Linked DNA regions of Homo sapiens. The protein of the gene in region 3 interacts with the protein of the main gene of each other region in a pairwise test. Each region holds a gene or a part of one and is shown on either strand. Other genes may lie near its edges. The genes, in order: TXNRD2, FRG1 and CFAP418.

The links.
Region 1: the proteins of CFAP418 (region 3) and TXNRD2 interact in a two-hybrid assay, tested with the Homo sapiens proteins (one study listed by IntAct).
Region 2: the proteins of CFAP418 (region 3) and FRG1 interact in a two-hybrid assay, tested with the Homo sapiens proteins (one study listed by IntAct).

What each region holds. Positions count from the first base shown.
Region 1 is NC_000022.11:19,893,274-19,896,837, forward strand, and holds the end of TXNRD2 (thioredoxin reductase 2, mitochondrial isoform 5 precursor), read right to left. Parts: intron 2,309-3,564; coding exon 2,134-2,308; intron 1,928-2,133; coding exon 1,860-1,927; 3' UTR 635-1,859; downstream 1-634. UniProt on the Homo sapiens protein: Involved in the control of reactive oxygen species levels and the regulation of mitochondrial redox homeostasis. Maintains thioredoxin in a reduced state. May play a role in redox-regulated cell signaling.
Region 2 is NC_000004.12:189,947,229-189,950,881, reverse strand, and holds part of FRG1 (protein FRG1), read right to left. Parts: intron 1-3,653. UniProt on the Homo sapiens protein: Binds to mRNA in a sequence-independent manner. May play a role in regulation of pre-mRNA splicing or in the assembly of rRNA into ribosomal subunits. May be involved in mRNA transport.
Region 3 is NC_000008.11:95,252,055-95,255,707, forward strand, and holds part of CFAP418 (cilia- and flagella-associated protein 418), read right to left. Parts: intron 230-3,653; coding exon 134-229; intron 1-133. UniProt on the Homo sapiens protein: May be involved in photoreceptor outer segment disk morphogenesis.

The DNA.
Region 1 (3,564 bases), on a different chromosome or scaffold from region 3:
ACGGACCAGGCTCAGCACAGAAAGGCCTCGGAGAACTAACAACACTGACTAGGTTGCTCCCGCCTTCAACATGCAAGTTGACAGGGTGATTGGGAAAACTAGGAGCCTAAACTAGACGGCCAGGCACCGAGGTGGGTAGGACATCTGAGCAGGCATGCTGTGTGTGCCGCCACCCACCCTGACGAGGACCCGCAGCCCTCCTTGCGGCGGCCCATCTGCAATGGCCTCCTCTGCAGCAGGCCTGGGACAGAGCAGTGTCTGGGCGATCCCTGTTGGCTCCAGCTGCCCCTTGCCAGTCCCGTCAGACAGCCCCGGCCCAGGCCTGGGCACAGGTATCCCCTGGCTGTGTCCACACTCCCCACACCTGCTCGGCCACTGCCCCATGCAAAACCGGACCTACACCTGACAGAGAGCAAGAAGGTGAGACCAGACTGTGCCCAGCAAGTTGTAGCCAGCCCACGCCTGGCCGGGAAACGCCCAGGCCTCTGCCCAGCACTGGAAGGGTGATGTCTTTGGAAGCCTTCGAAATGTGACTTCTGGAAAGGCCTGCAAAATGCCACTCCTGGCATGTGATGACCTGCCAGGCCCAAAGGGACCCACTGGGAAACACTGAAAGCCACGAGAAGGCTGGACAGAACTTTAAAAACTCTGTGTCATTTTTATGTGCTGAAAACAGGCGGCTTGTGCACACCCATGTTCACAGCAGCATGATCCACAACAGCCAAAAGACGGAAGCAACCTAAGTGTCCACTGACAGATAATGGACACACATACAACTCAGCCTTCAACAGGAAGGAAATGCTGGCACATGCTACACAAATGCTAACTCTAACAAATGCTGCAACATGGATGCACCCTGAAAACATTGTGCTAAGAGAAATGAGCCAGTCACAAAAGGACAAACACTGCATGATTCTACTTACATGAAGTCCCTCGAGGAGTCAGATCCATAGAGACACACAGTGAAGGGTGAGTGCCCGGGCAGCAGGGAGTGAGTGTTTAATGGGGACAGAGCTCAGTTTGGAGATAATGGAAAAGTTCTAGAGATGGATGGTCATGCTGCTTGTACAATATGAACGTACTTAACACCACTGAACTATATACTTTAAAATGCTTAAGATGATGAATTTGATGTTATGTGTATGTCACCATAATTTTTAAAACTTTCAAATCCATATCATTTTTATGTTAAAAACAACAAACTAGCTTGGCTGGGCACAGTAGCTCAAACCTGTAATCCCAGCACTTAGAAGGCTGAGATGGGAAGATTGATTGAGCCTGGGAGGTGGAGGCTGCAGTGAGCTATGATCACACCACCACACTCCTCCTAGGCAACAGAGAGAGACCCTGTTTCACACGCAAAAAAAGAAAAAAACCTAGCTGGAAAGCCTGAAGCAGCAAAACATTTAATATGCTAAAGAAAAAATACATACTGGCCAGGTGCGGTGGCTCACACCTGTAATCTCAGTACTTTGGGAGGCCAAGGCAGGTGGATCACAAGGTCAGGAGATTGAGACCATCCTGGCCTACATGGTGAAACCCCGTCTCTACTAAAAATACAAAAATTAGTCAGGTGTAGTGGTGGGCGCCTGTAGCCCCAGCTACCCAGGAGGCTGAGGCAGGAGAATCGCTTGAACCCGGGAGGCGGAGGTTGCCACTGCACTCCAGCCTGGGCGACAGAGCGAGACTCCATCTCAAAAAAAAAAAAAAAAAGAAAAGAAACATACCAAGACTTAAACCTGGAAGGTGACAAGTAGGATTTATGTGCTGAAACCTTAATAAGCAATTGCTCAAGGGCCAGGGAAGGCGAGGATGATTGCCTAGTTGATCCTCGATGAGGACACCTGGCTGATGCCGTCTCAGTCTCTTCTCTGGTTTTTTCCAGCATGTCCCACGGTGGTGGGGAGACACGCAGAGATGCAAGGTGCTGGGGATGGCAAGATGGGCACAGCCTAGTGTGAGTGCCGCCCCACAGGCCTTCACGGTTGCTCTCGAGGTGCACTGGGGAGCGGCCAACCCGCCTGGCAGCCAGCAGGATGGGGGAGCCCTGGGAGGTGACAGGAAGTGGGGCAAAGATTCTCCATGCACCTCGGGGAGACCAGAGACAGAGCGTGTGGCTCGACGTGCCCTTACCTATGGCCCACAGGACGGTGTCAAAGGTGCCCGTGTCCTCCTTGCCGGTGGTGCTGTCCTCCCAGGTGACCTGCAGCTGGCCATCAGGGAGCCTCCTGACCCGCGAGGGGGCACAGCCCCTCAGGAACCGGGTGCCATGAGATGCCATGTGCTCTATGACCATGGAGGACATTTGCTGCAAAGCACAAGAAGACAGGCCATGAAGACCAGGTGGCCGTGGGAGAGAGGCTCTGGCCCTGCCCTGCTCTCGAAGGCCTCAATGAAGGGCGGAGAGGGGTCTGTGCGGAAGACGGGGTGAGACACCCTGCCCCCTGCTCTACGTCCTCTTGCTCTCTGTGGAGTGTCTAGCCCCTGTCCTGGCTCCAAGTCCTCAACCCTGGGCCCTATGGTCAGGATTCACTCAGCCTGTGGGCTCCTCTCTAGATGCTAATTAACTAAGTCTTCATCAGCCAGATACGGTCACACCTGTAATCCCAACCTTTTGGGAGGCTGAAGTGGGAGAATCCCTCAAGCCCAGGAGTTTGAGGCTGCAATGAACTGTGATCACACCACTGCACTCCAGCCTGGGCGACAGAGTGAGACTCTATCTCTAAAAGAAAAAATAAGCAAGGCCGGGTGCGATGGCTCACACCTGTGATCCCAGCACTTTGAGAAGCTGAGGCGGGCGGATCACGAGGTCAGGAGATAGAGATCATCCTGGCTAACACGGTGAAACACTGTCTCTACTAAAAAACACAAAAAATTAGCCAGGCGTGGTGGCAGGTACCTGTAGTTCCAGCTAACTGGGAGGCTGAGGCAGGAGAATGGCGTGAACCCGGGAGGTGGAGCTTGCAGTGAGCCGAGATTGTGCCACTGCACTCCAGCCTGGGTGACAGAGTGAGACTCTGTCTCAAACCAAAAAAAAAGAAAGAAAAAAAAGAAAAACAACCAAATCCTGGTACATCTACACATTTCTTTAAAAAACAAAAACAAAAAACTTAGTCTTCACTAAAACCAATGGCAGAGAAGCGTGCCTTCCCCCAGGAGCTGTGCCCTGGTCCAACAAGATGGCCCCTGCTCCTGGCCCACCCCTCCACATGTGGCCAACATGCCCCTCTGCCATCCAGGAGCCAGGAGGGTAGGTAGGAGACTCTGCTCCCGCCTAGAAATGTAGGCACAGCAGGCTCAGGTCCAGATCAGGGACAGAGAGAGTCCTGCTTCTCCCTCCCGGCCCAGGAGGCCTGTGCGCCCCAAGTCCAGCTACAGATGGGGGCCCTGTTCCCAGGACAATGGGGACTTGCACGGACCAGCAGTGAAGCTGGCCACAGCTTCTGGTTTCAAGAGGAGAAAAACAGTCACTGCTAACATCCTCTGACACCTGTGCGGGTGTGCCAGCTGGCTCTAGATGGCGTGTGTGGGAGTCTGGCCCGCCGGGCAGGGCTGGCTGTGCTG
Region 2 (3,653 bases), on a different chromosome or scaffold from region 3:
AGAAATGTACGTTTATGTACTCATGGGTAAAATGACATAACATCTGTGATTTTACTTAAAATTTTCTAAGAAAAAATGTGTGTGGGGGCATGTGTGTAAATGAAATGAGATTGGCAAAATATTGATAATTAATGCTGGGGCCTGGGCACATGGGGGACTCATTATATTCTTCTATGTATGGAATAGTTTGGATATTTCCATAATAAAAAGGTTTTAAAGATTCAGTTAATTCCACTGCACAAAATTTTCTATTCAACTAAACATTTCATGCTTTCCATAATAAATTTTAAAATACATAAAATTTTAGCTAAAATGAAGTTGGACCCTTATCTAATGCCAAATACAAAAAGTAACTTAAAACAGACCAAAGACCTAAATGTAAGAGCTAAAGTTAGAAAACTTTTAGAAGAAAATGGGAAAAGCTTCACGACATGAATTTGGCAATGATTTCTTATGTAGAACATCAAAGGCACAGGCAACAAAAGAAAACGTGGACAAACTGGACTTCATCAGAATTAAAAACTTTTGTGCATCAAGAACCGCCATCAACAGAGTAAAAGGCAACCCAGGGAATGGAGAAAATATTTGTAAACTACATACATTATAAGGAATTAATATCCAGACTATATAGAGAACTCCAAAAAGACAAATACCACAATTCAAAACTGGGCAAAGGATATACACGGACATTGCTCCAAAGATGATATACAAATGGCCAATAAGCACTTGAAAAGACGCTCAACATCACTAGTCACTAGGGAAATATAAATCAAAACCATAATGCAATACCACTTCACACCCATTAGAATAGCTATTATCAAAACAAACAAACAAACAAAAAACAGAAACCAAGAAAGCCAGAAAAACAAATGTTGGGCAGGATGTGGAGAAACGGAAACCCTGTGCAATGCTGGTGGGAAGGTAAAATGGTGCATGTATTTAAATGCCACTGAAGCATACACGTAAAAATAGAAAAACTGGCAAATTCTATATTCTGTATATTTTACCTCCACACACACACAAAACCAATGGAGAAAAAGAAAATTAATCAAAATTAAAATTTCAGCTAAAGACAATTAAAAAGAAATAAAACTAATAAGCAATTTAGATGATTGAATTATAGCTACAATTGTTTTCAGGAAAAGAAATAATGCTTTATTCAGAATCATTATCAACAGTGTTATGATTAGCAAGTCTTTCTTATAAATATAATAGTTAATGATTTTAAATTAGATTTATTTTGTATGTTCTATGCCACATTGACCAAGTACACTTAATATTAAATAAAATCATTTAAATATAATAACTCATTAATGTTTTGCAAATGAAGAAGAAATTTCTGGCAGACAAGCTCCTTAAAATTTTCACACTCTGTCCAAGTAGGGAAATGATACAATAACGTTACTTTAATATTGTCAACTGAAAAAGAAATTACTTTGAGCAGATGCCAGTATTTTTTCTCAATGCAATTTCAAAGAATAAGAAATATAAACACAGTATCATCAAGAATTAAATGTGAGCATTCTGCCTACTTTCTGCAAGTGGCCTACATTCAACCTTTGGAGGTATGCTTATATGTTTATCGACTAAAGTAACATAACATAATACTTAATGGTGCCACTCTGGGGTTTTAGCTGTGAGAAAGCAGTGGATCCTATGAACACGGGCACTGAAGTTGCCTGTCTCTACGTCAGGTGACAGCTCAAGCTGTGTATATGGTGCAGATGCCCAAGCTGAATTTAAGAGAATCCGCTCTAAAACATTACTTGCTATTTAGACACATGCTTAAAGTTATTTCCTTTTAAACCTTAGGCAGATGGTGAAATATTCCTGCTGTGTTGTCTCACAATGCATGAGAAAGCTTTACACATATTGTCACATAGTTTAGAATGTTTACATATGTCTGGCATGCCTGTAATCCAGCACTTTGAGAGGTGGAAGCAGGAGAATCACTTTAGCCCAGGAGTTCAAAATCAGCCTAGGCAACAAAAGGAGACCCCCATCTCTACAAAAAAATTAAGAAATTAGCTGGGTGTGGTGGTACGAGCCTGTGGTCCCAGCTACTCGGGAGTCGGAGGTGAGAGGATTGCTTGAGCCTACGAGGTCGAGGGTGCACTGAGCCACGATCATGTCACTGCACTCCAGCCTGAGCAACAAAGCAAGAGCCTGTCTCAAAAAAAACAAAACAAAAAAATGGCCCAATGCACCAGTGTCATGGCTGATAAGATAGTACCAGGGCACCCTCATTCTAGCATCAAGGCTGTGTGACAGCTCACCTCACCTTCTGACTAACCCAGTGCTTCCGTGCTAAGGGCCCCCTTAAATCTCTACTATCATTATGTGCTTGGCACAAAGGAATGATATATCTTAGATTTGGAAATGGAATTTTCTTCCCCAATCTTACTGTAGTCTAAGTACCCTTCACAGACCTTCTATTAATCCACAGCTGACTTAGCTTTAGTTCCTGGGTAAATAAAATATATGTGTTTTGCAAAGTACGATGTTGTAAGTCCAACTGCTTCTGAATCTAGCAGAGCTCAGTGAAACTCTTTGCCTACAGACATGCTCGTTTTTATTAATGTCACACTTGGTTTTCTCCATGTGAAAGACAGAATTTCTTTCATCCTATTTACCAATCCCTTCAGATCCTTGTGAGGAACCAACAGAACAGCTTTAAAAAATTAAAAGGTTTTTTTTCTTTCCCTTCACAAATAGGCACATGCTTACTTATACGGCAAGTTTAGAAAATCCACAATGCAAAACCATGTGGAAGGACAAAGAGAAAAAGACGCAGAAGGACTTCCTCTTCCAGCCAAGATGGACTTGCCCTCCCACCATGACCAACGAGAAAACTGAAACTGGATAGAATATTTGAGAAAACTGTTTTCAGAGATTGGAACACAGGCAGAACAGGACTGTGATATTTGAGAACAGGAAAACACTGGAGGCAAATCTCATACACACTTGTGTTTTCTGCCCAATGGCAGTTTCTTGACCACACGGAGAGAGGTAGAGACCTCCAGAAATGAGGCAATGTCACTGTCACTAAGCTGAGAGTCTTACAGTGCTAACATGTTGGGAGTTTATAGAATAAGGTACTGGAGAAGAGGGAACTACATACAGGTGAGGCCTCAAAAGAGTACGCAAAAGTTCTCTGCAGGTCTGTGGCCAAGGGCTGGGGGGAGTGCATGCAGCAGGCAGGCTCCACAAGGCCTCTGCAGAGTGGCTGGCACTTCTGAGGGCTGACTGGAGATGCCAGAGATCACACAAATTTGGGACACAGCAGAGTGGAGAGAACTCACTAAGTATACCTAGAACATGTGGCTGAGGCCCATGAGGATGAACCTTTCCTAGACTAAGAGTCACTGTCTAAGTCTACGAGCAAAACCCTAATAAATAAGCACAAACTAACAAAGGCCCAGGCTTGACAGGAGCAAAAGGGTGGTCAAATAATTTGACTAGGCATCAAGACATTTAACAGAAATAAGGTTAAAATGTTATGAAAATGAAAGACTGAATTTATAAGGAAGACTTAACAATCCTAAATGTGTACACATGACGGCTTCAAAATACTTTAAGCAAAAACTGCTCAAGTAGACAGATCTAGAATTACCGCTGGAGATTTTAACATAACTATCAATACACTGTAGCAT
Region 3 (3,653 bases):
AACGCAGCACATGACTATACTGAAGAGGTGAAGCCCACAAGATCTGGCTGAATCCACCCAGAGAGAATATATCAAAATAGGAAATATAAACTACTTGGTACTTTTTTCAGAGTGAAGTTCTTTAGCAACATACCTGAAAAACAGATAATCACACGATTTGTCCCACATATAGTCATCATAGCTGACTACCAAGAAATCACAGGCTATACAACGCAGATGGTCACATGCTCTGTTCAGAGAAAAAAAATTGTATATTAAAGATTATTGGTATCTTTAAATACCAATGAAAACATGGTGATTTATTTATAGGATACACCACATATTACAGATTACTGAATAAACAACAGAAAAGTACAGATTAATCTGATTATAAATCTTTATACTAAAGCATTATTTACGGTCTAAACCTTAAGGTTAAATTTTTGCACAAACCTACCTATTTTACTATGATCTTGTACACTGAACTTACACATATATTATATAGATATGAAAGAAAATAGATTTGTAGATCTTTTAATTCCATGGTTTTCAAATTACGTCTGAGGGAGATCGTCATATAAGCTAACTTCTTTAAATGCTCCCCTTCCTACTGAAATTTTCAGGAATATCTCTACCGAAGAATATGTCACATGACATTGAAATGAATCTGTTTTTCAGATAAGCTGCTTAAGCGCTGGGAAAAGATTGTATTTGTTTGCTTCCTCACAACTTGGCATAATGCATTCATTCACTCAAAAAATATTTATTGAGAGTCTGGTATGTGCTAATGAGATTCTGTCTTCATAGAGCTTTGATTGCAGTGAGAGAAGAAACAAACAATGCTCATGATAACTAGACTATATACTAACCTGGAGGGATATCTGAAGCAAGGTGCACACTAACATATATAGCATGATCCTATTTTTGTAAAAACGACCCCCACAAAAAATTCCTATATAGGTGGCTAGAAGTTTATAAGAACATGGAGCAAAATGGCCGGGCGCGGTGGCTCACGCCTGTAATCCCAGCCCTTTGGGAGGCTGAGGCGGGCGGATCACGAGGTCAGGAGATCGAGACCATCCTGGCTAACACAGTGAAACCCCATCTCTACTAAAAATACAAAAAAATTAGCTGGGCATGGTGGCGGGCGCCTGTAGTCCCAGCTACTCAGGAGGCTGAGGCAGGAGAATGGCGTGAACCCGGGAGGCGGAGATTGCAGTGAGGGGAGATCGCGCCACTGCACTCCAGCCTGGGCGACAAAGCGAGACTCTGTCTCAAAAAAAAAAGAACATGGAGCAAAATGTAGAAAGTTATATACTACACAGTAACCCTGGTTGCATCAGGAGTGGTTGAAGGGAAGGAAGGGAGATTATTATCTTTTTCTTTATACATGTTTCAATTTTGTTTTTATTCTTTCATTAAGCACATAATACTTCTGTAATGAAAAAATAAACTCATCATTAGATTTTTTTCATTTATTTCCCTTCAAAGTTCAGATACGCTAATTTCAAAATGCAAATACTTTTGGCCTGAAAATTTCTTTGAGAATAAATGCTTTGTATTTCTAAAAATACTATTAACCATAATAATAATGAAACATTTAAAACCTATACAAGTTTCATAGGCAAGTCCATATTTTCTTTCAAACTGTTAGCAATTTATGAAGTTGCATTTCTACATTTGGAAATTCAACAACTACATTTGTACACATTTGAACTCAGACTTCGAATGTACAAGTCAGGAAATGCAAATTGATAGTTCCCAAAGCTACTATGACCTGCTTTCTTATGCATATATAGTTTATTACATGATTGCACAGAGTGTTAACTTTAATGCCTTAATACATATGTGCAATTTGGCTGAATTATTGCTGTTGTGGGAACTATAATTTAGAATTTCCTGACATTTTGTATGTGTAAAATCTCAACCATAATGCTAAATACAGCTTTTTAATTTAATTTAAAATTTAGTAGTTTATTCAAATCTATTCACACCACCACATTTTCCTACAAACACTGTCCTTTGAGAAACATAAAACTAACTTGCAGCTAAGAAATCATTCCACTGCTACGATTTACTCTATTAGATCATAATTAGTACCAGTCTATGGAATAATCCAGTCTTGCAAGTTGTTTAAAAAATAATTGAGAGTAAAATTCGATTGGCTTGAAAATGCCTTCGTTTTATCTGTAGTACTTATTACTGCCACCATGCTTCCTACTACTATTCTCTCCCCTTTTCCACCAACAAGTGAAAGACAAATCTTTTTCTAAAATCTAAAGTCATTCAGCATTACCTCAAGCCAGAGCTGTATCTAGAAATCAAACAACGCAAATAGGCAGGATAGATTCAATTTCCTTTATGCCCTGGCCATGTAAATCAGTACTCTTTTCAGGGCTGAAATATATTTCTCTTTCATAACTATGTACATAAAAGCATATCTAATATAAAGTCATGACTCCAGTGAAAGACAAACTGTCAGGTCTTTCCCTCTAAAATGTAGAGGGAATCACACATAAGATGTCACCAAGAGCTTTGTTCTTTTGTCCAGCTAAAAAGTAGAATTCACTATTTTAAAGATGTTTACGACAGGAATGCCCCAAATCCAACCCAATACAATCTTCTGCCCAGACACTGTGGTTCTCTGTTAAATCCTATCAGATCTGCACAATGGGACTAAAGAAACTTGATGTCTGGATAGTTTGAAGATAACAGCAGTTCCAACAGCAACATCAGCTAAGATTCTTCCCATATTACATGGCTTTCTGCTAAGTGGTATAATAGAAAGCATAATGGATTAGGAATCAAGTAACCAATCTGGATCCTTGCTTTGCAATAACTGATATGACCTTGAGCAAGGCACCTTATTTGGGAGTCATTCTTAACAACTTTCTTTCTTACCCTCCTTAGTCAATCACTGAATTCTGTCAATTCTATATTCTAAATATTTCAAATTTGACCTTTTCCCTATAGCCATTGCTACCACGCAGGTCACAGCTCCCATCTTCTCTTTCCTGGACCACTCTAACTACTGCCCATTGACTAGTCTTCCTGTGTCCTTTCCTGTCTTGCCCCTCCAACTCCCAAGCCATTTTCTGCACAGCAGCCAACATGACTTTTTTAAGAAACACAAATCTGGCCCATTGAACACAGGACAAACTTTTTCCAAAATCCTCAAAAGGATTACAGGACCCTAAGCCAAATGTCCCTCCACTCTCTCTCCAGCCCAGTCAGTGGCCATTCTTTCCCTACTCATTATGCTCCAGCATGGCCAGATACTCTCTGTTCCTTCCACCAGAGGAACACCCCCAGCTCCTCCCCTTCTCAGGGAGCTTCTAAACATGCGTGTGCTCTGGCTCCAATGGTCACCTCTCTTTGTCTAACTCCTACTCATTTTTCATATTGTGGTTTGATTATCTGCTCAGAGAAGTATTCCCTGACCCTTCATATTAGTTAGAGTGTCCATTATCTATGCTTATAGTATCCCATATGTTCCCTTTATGTCACATATCAAATGGAAAATAAATACTTATTTGTGGAATAATCTATTTAAAGCCCATCTCCTCATCTAGACTGAAAGCTCATTGAAGACAGGAAGTGTCCATTTATTTGTTCATCAAAATTTGTTCATTTAATCCTTAGGACCTATCAGGTGGTTAATATGTGTTTGATGA